Homo sapiens: one gene and its partner. Each later gene encodes a partner of the first gene's protein in a complex. Each region holds a gene or a part of one and is shown in the gene's direction. Other genes may lie near its edges.

Region 1 (3,581 bases):
GGCTAAGGCAGGAGAATTGCTTGAACCCGGGAGGCGGAGGTTGCAGTGTGCCGAGATCGCGCCATTGCACTTCAGCTTTGGGCAACAGAGCAAGACTCCGTCTCAGGAAAAAAAAAAAAAAAAAAAAAAAAGAGTGTCTCTTAAGCACAGCTAGGTTTTTGGTTTGTTTTTTTTTTAATCTCATAAAATCTCTGCTTTTTTTTTCTTTTATTGTGATACATAACATTTCCCATTTTAACCATTTTCAGGTATACAAATCAGTGGCATTTAGTACGTTCACATTGTGCAATGACCGCCAGAACTTGATCTCTGCTTCTCTGGCAATTTAGTTCATTTACGTTTATTATAGTTATTTACATATATATGATGGTTATTTATATATGTGTCTACATAATTAGTTTTTATCAAGATGGGGTCTTGCCCTGTTGCCCAGGATGGTCTCGAACTCCTGGGCTCGAGTAACCCTTCTGCCTGGGCCTCCTAAAGTGCTGGGATTACAGGCGTGAGCCACTGCGCCCAGCCTATTGTGGTTATCAATGCATTTATTCTTACCATTTTATGGTATCTTATACTTTCTGTTTATCCTCTTTATTTTAAATTTTGTAATAGCTTTATTGAGGTGTACATGACATACAATAACTGCACTTGTTTAAAGTTTTTTTTTTTTTTTTTTTTTTTGAGACAGAGTCTTGCACTGTCGCCCAGGCTGGAGTGCAGTGGTGCAATCTCGGCTCACTGCAAGCTCCACCTCCCGGGTTCACACCATTCTCCTGCCTCAGCCTCCTGAGTAGCTGGGACTACAGCCACCCGCCACCACGCCTGGCTAATTTTTTGTACTTTTAGTAGAGACAGGGTTTCACCATGTTAGCCAGGATGGTCTCGATCTCCTGACCTCGTGATCCACCCGCCTCGGCCTTCCACTAAGTGCTGGGATTACAGGCATGAGCCACCGCACCCAGCCTTAAAGTTAAATTTAATAAGTTGTGACATATGTTTACACCCATAGAACTCACCACAATCAAAACATAATATCCTAAAAATTTCACACCTAAACATTTCCACCTTCCCCTTTGTAATACTTCTCCCTGCCTCAGTTTCCTCACCCTATCCCTGGGCAACCACTAATTTGCTTTCTGTCACTAGGTAAGTTAGCATTTTCTAGAATTTTATGTAAATGGAATCAACGGTATATAATTTGGAGGGGGTAGTTTCTTTAATCATAATTATTTTGAAATTCATTCTGTCTTCTAAAGATTGGGCATCTCTAATTCCAAAGTCTGAAACTTCTGGAGCACCATAAGTGGACAATTCCACATCTGACCTCATGTGACAGGTTGCAGTCAAAACTTTGTTTCATGCACAAAATTATTTAAAATACTATGTAAAATTGCCATCAGGCTGTTTGTATAAGGTGTAGATGAAACACACAAATTTCATAGTTAGACTTGGAGCCCTTCCCAAGATACCCCATTATATATATGCAATTATTTGAAATTTGAAACACTTCTGGTTCTAAGCATTTCAGATAAGGGATATTCAGCCTGTATTTTATTTTTCTTTTATTTGTGTGTTTTTTGTTTTTGTTTTTGAGAAGGAGTCTCACTGTGTTGCCCCGGCTGGAATGCAGCGGTGCAATCCTGGCCCACTGCAACCTCTGCCTCCTGGGTTCAAGTGATTCTCAGGCCTCAGCCTCCTGGGTAGCTGGGACTACACGTGAGCACCACCACGCCCAGCTAATTTTTATATTTTTAGTAGAGATGAGGTTTCAGCATGTTGGCCAGGCTGGTCTTGAACTCCTGACCTTAGATGATTCGCTCGCCTCAGCCTCCCAGAGTACTGGGATTACAGGCATGAGCCACCACACCTAGCCTACATGTATTTTCTCATCCTCTTTTTTTTTTCCCCGTTTCTAGTTATATATATTTTCTTATTATTCATTTTGTTTTTTTCTGCTGGTTTGGGAGTTAGACGTGCTATGCTTTTAGAGGTTATTCTTGAATTTTTTTTTTTTTTTTTTTGAGACACTAGCCTGTTGCCGAGGCTAGAATGCAGTGAGTGGCGCAATCTCGGCTCACTGCAAGCTCCGCCTCCCGGGTTCACGCCATTCTCCTGCCTCAGCCTCCTGAGTAGCTGGGACTACAGGCACCTGCCACCATGCCCAGCTAAATTTTTTTGTATTTTTAGTAGAGACGGGGTTTCACTGTGTTAGCCAGGATGGTCTCGATCTCCTGACCTCGTGATCTGCCCACCTCAGCCTCCCAAAGTGCTGGAATTACAGGCGTGAACCACCGCACCCAGCCAAATTTTTTTTTGTTAACCTGTAAACTAACTTGTATACCTAATCAGAATAGTCTAAAATTAGTTGAATCAATGTTCTGAGGAAAACCCTTGAGAAAATAAAGTTAGAATTTCAAGTGTCAGAATCTTTTTGACATTGAGAGTTTGTGGCTTTGTAGTGTAGAAGAATAATTCACAGACACTATTTCACTTGTGTAACAAGGGAGACAGATTTTCAGATTAATTTCCAACCGAGCAAAAGCAGGATTTATATAGGAGAAAGAGGAACAAGGAGAGAGGGCAAAACCACAGAACAGTGGATTCTGTTTGCCCGTTTTTCTGTGTAAACTCTGATATTAACTCTCCTTGAGTATGCCACCCAGGGTTGGTGGATGCTCTAGAAAACACGATAGGCCCTCTGCCAGTAAGGGTTTTCAGCAACTCCAGATTCAGCCAGTCTAAATATACCCTTTCCATCATCAGCATTTCTCAGCCTTCATCTTTTGGTCAAAACAAGCTTGTAAAGGAGTGGGTTTATTCTCATGAGCTTCAGCCTCTTTGATGTGGGATAAGGCCATCTGTTGTCTTATGGTGATCTGAAGGTATTAGGGGGAAGTTCATCTATACCTGATGTCATGATTGACCTGTGAACTCTTTTTCTTTTTTTCTTTTTTTAGATGGAGTCTTGCTCTGTTGCCCAGGCTGGAGTGCAGTGGTGCAATCTCATCTCACTGCAACCTCCGCCTCCCTGGTTCAAGCAGTTCTCCTCAGCCTCCCAAGTAGCTGGGATTACAGGCACGTGCCACCACGCCTGGCTAATTTTTTGTATTTTTAGTAGAGACGGGGTTTCGCCGTGTTAGCCAGGATGGTCTCGATCTCCTTATCTCTTGATTGCCTGCCTCGGCTTCCCAAAGTGCTGGGATTACAGGCGTGAGCCACTGCGCCCAGCGACCTGTGAACTCTTACAGAGCTGCTGTCTACTTCTAAGAGTTACCTGATTCTGGAGGCGTTTTTTTGTTTTTGTTTTTGTTTTTTAAGTGAACCCCAGGATCTCTAGTGAGACTGAATGTCCGAGTTAGGATCCTAAGCAAGGGTATACATCTAGGGCTTTCCATCAGTAGTTGTGGTTGGGAAGGCATGGGAAAATGGTGTGGTCCTCTGCAGTGTAGTTAGGCCTGACTTCCGTTGGTGTCTCTCAATAATGAGTTTTTAGTCTCTTAACTATGTATTAAGTAGAGGTAATACTCGTTTAGAAATGTTGCTTTTATCTGTTGATTATATAGCTGAGGATATAAACATTTGTT
Region 2 (3,581 bases), on another chromosome or scaffold:
CCTGGACAGCTCTCTTCGCCATACATACTTCTGTATTATATAACTTTGTATTAGTTTTCTTTCGCACCATAACAAATTAACAGAAACTTAATGACTTAATACCGATTTATGTATTTTACTTTTATTTTTTATTTTATTTTTCTGAAACGGAGTTTCGCTCTTGTTGCCCAGGCTGGAGTGCAACGGTGCGATCTCGGCTCACTGCAACCTCTACCTCCCGGGCTCAAGCGATTCTCCTGCCTCAGCCTCCCGAGTAGCTAGGATTATAGGCATGCACCACCACACCCAGCTAATTTTGTATTTTTAGTAGAGATGGGGTTTCTCCATGTTGGTCAGACTGGTCTTGAAGTCCCGGCCTCAGGTGATCTGCCTGCCTCGGCCTCCCAAAGTGCTGGGATTACAGGCGTGAGCCACAGCACCCGGCCTAACAATACCAATTTATTAGCTCACGGTTTTGTAGGTTAGAAGTCCAGTGCTGTGTGCTTGGTCCTTGTATTAGTCCATTGTCACACTGCTGTAAAGAAATGCCTGAGAGTGGGTGATTTATAAAGAAAAGAGGTTTAATTGGCTCACAGTTCTGCAGGCTCTAGAGGAAGCGTGGCTGAGGAGACCTCAGGAAACTTGCAATGGTGGCAGAAAGCAAAGGAGAAGCAGGCACATCATGGCCAGAGCAGGAGAAAGAGAGGGGGGAGGTTGGTATACACTTTTAAACAACCAGATCTCTTGAATACTCTTACCACAAGAATAGTGCCAAAGGGGGAAGTCTGCCCCCATGATCCAGTCACCTCCCACCATGCTCCTCCTCCAACATTGGAGTTTACAATTTGACATGCAGTTTGGGTGGGGCCACAAATCCAAACAAGGCAGAAATCATGGTGTCAATAGAAATAGAACTGAGTTCTCATCTGGAGGTTCTGAAAGAAAAGCCACTTCCAAGCCCATTCTTATTGTGGGTAAAGTTCATTTCCCTGCAGTTAGATGACTGAGGCCCCCATCCCCCTGCCAGTTGTCAGCTGGGAGCCTCTCTTGGCTCCTAGAGGCCACCTGCATTCCTTGTCACATGGCCCCCTCCATCTCCAAGATAGCAACAGCACATCAGATCCTTCTTGTGCTTCAGATCTCTGACTTCCTCCGTCTCCGACCTCTACACCTAGATTTAAGAGACTCATACGGTTGGGTGAGCCCAGCCAGGTAGTGTATATTAAGGTAAACTGATTTGCGGCCTTACATCTGCAAAATCCCTTTTGACATACAAGGTAGGATGATCATGGGGGTGATACTTGATCCTAGCCATAGGTTCTGCCCGTAGTCAAGGGGAGGAGACTCTGCAAGGGCAAGGGTCACTGGGGGTCATCTTAGAATTCTGCCCATCCCAGGCCTCAACCATGAACTCTTTGAAAATGATTTCTCAAATCTACTCTGATTTATTATACTTCCCATTGTTTTTCTGCTAAAACACCTTCCCCTTCCATGTGTCCCCAGTCCCGTCATTGCCTCTGGGCCAGCTGTCCATCAGCATTGTCTTTCTTCCACCTAAGCTCTGAGCCTCCAACATCTCCAACTTCTTTTTTACATTATTCTGTTTTGCTGTTAGCAAAATAGAAGGCTTTGCTGTCTTCTGAATCTGTCCTGGATTTCACTGATAATTGCCCTAGTTCAGGGCCCCATTTCATCATGCCTGTTTGACATTTGTCTCCTAACTGATTTCTCTACCTCCACCCAACTTCTATATTTGATTTATCTCCGCCAGTCAATTGTCCAATACACGCTTCATCAGCAGTGCAGATTGGGAGAAGAATTCTAACATGCCCCAGCAAGCTGTATGCAGTAGTATGCACCTATAGTCCTAGCTACTCAGGAGCCTGAGGTGGGAGAATCGCTTGGGTTCATGAGTTCAAATCCTGAACTCACCAGCTTGGGCAACATAGTGAGACCCCATCTCCAAAAAATGTGCCACAGCAAACTCACAGGAGTGCTGCAGGATATTTTAAATTTTTTAGGGAAACACAGAGACATCTTGTCAGAATACTAATACATGGTTTGACCCTAACTAAATAAAAGGAATTCTTGGCCGGGCACGGTGGCTCACGCCTGTAATCCCAGCACTTTGGGAGGCCGGGGCGAGTGGATCACCTGAGGTCAGGAGTTCGAGACCAGCCTGGCCAACATGATGAAACCCCGTATCTACCAAAAATACAAAAATTGGCTGGACATGGTGGCGGGCACCTGTAATCCCAACTACTAGGGAGGCTGAGGTAGGAGAATCACTTGAACCCGGGAGGCGGAGGTTGCAGTGAGCCAAGATCGTGCCACTGCACTCCACCCTGGGCAACAAGAGCAAAACTCCGTCTCAAAAAAAAAAAGAAAAAAAATTTAAAAGAAATTCTTGAGTATTTCTTTTGCCCTGTGTTTGCCATGAACCAAGAAAGTTTGGGAACCTCTGTCATGTGACCTTTGACCAGTCATTTCACTCTGGGTCCAACTTCCCACGTCTACAAATGATATGGGTAGAAAAGAGGATCTCTCTGGGGTCCTTTTCTACTGTGTGTGCATTTATGTAAAATGTCAGACTCAGCTTTGCACCCACTGCAGGCTTCCACCCCCATCTAAGGCCAACTCTGCCTGTCTTTCCTATCCCACCATGCCTCTCAGATCAAGACCTCCTGGCTACACCTGCACTTGAGCCAATATTCTCCACTTGGCTCACTGTTACACGTCCTCTGTGAAGCCCTTCCTTACCACGCAACACATAGTAAACACTTGGCTCTGCTGTTTATATGACACTTCTAAAGTGTGTGTGTGTGTGTGTGTGTCCGTGTGTGTCCATCCATCATTCCCTGTCTAGGCGAGCTTTTAGAAGAGAGGAATTGTAAGTCGTTGAGTGACTGCTGTGCGGCAGGCTGTGCAAGGGAAGGGACTATGTCTTTGTCTCTTAAATGGTAAGATTTAGTGCGTACCTACCCACTTTCTAAGCAAGCAGACTAGGGAGTTCCTTCTCTGCCAGAGGAGGTCCCAGCACCTTGGGCATTTGGAGCTTGCTTCTGTTTCTCTAACGGGGCTCTCCTGCAGCACTGTAATGGCGTTGACTGGCGTCAGAAGCTGGACTCTCAGCGAGGGGCTGTCATTGCCACGGAGCTGAAGAACAACAGCTACAAGTTGGCCCGGTGGACCTGCTGTGCTTTGCTGGCTGGATCTGAGTACCTCAAGCTTGGGTGAGATTCCTGTGCAGGAGCTGGCAGCTGATCTTGTGAAAGGAAGGGTCTGGGTAGGGAGGTTGACCCTCCCCTCCCCGTGTACTGGACAATTGACTGGCAGAGATAAATCCAGGGGTGGGGTAGAGATGGAGGGGTCAGTTAGGAGACAAATGCCAAACAGCAGGCATGCTGAATGGAGTCCTGAACTAGGGCAATGGTGTCAATGAAATCCAGAACTGAGAACTCAGAAGACGATGTTTTCCCTTTCCCTTGAAAATAGCAGTGGACTGCCGGGCGCGGTGGCTCATGCCTGTAATCCTAGCACTTTGGGAGGCCCAGGCTGGCAGATCACGAGGTCAGGAGATCAAGACCATCCTGGCTAACACG

Evidence for each region.
Region 2: EIF3CL (region 1) and EIF3D share a complex: the UniProt entries of both Homo sapiens proteins name them as parts of the eukaryotic translation initiation factor 3 (eIF-3) complex.

Annotation. Positions count from the first base shown.
Region 1 is NC_000016.10:28,393,765-28,397,345, reverse strand, and holds part of EIF3CL (eukaryotic translation initiation factor 3 subunit C-like protein), read left to right. Parts: intron 1-3,054; exon of another isoform or gene 3,055-3,072; intron 3,073-3,581. UniProt on the Homo sapiens protein: Component of the eukaryotic translation initiation factor 3 (eIF-3) complex, which is required for several steps in the initiation of protein synthesis.
Region 2 is NC_000022.11:36,512,091-36,515,671, reverse strand, and holds part of EIF3D (eukaryotic translation initiation factor 3 subunit D), read left to right. Parts: intron 1-3,069; coding exon 3,070-3,212; intron 3,213-3,581. UniProt on the Homo sapiens protein: mRNA cap-binding component of the eukaryotic translation initiation factor 3 (eIF-3) complex, a complex required for several steps in the initiation of protein synthesis of a specialized repertoire of mRNAs.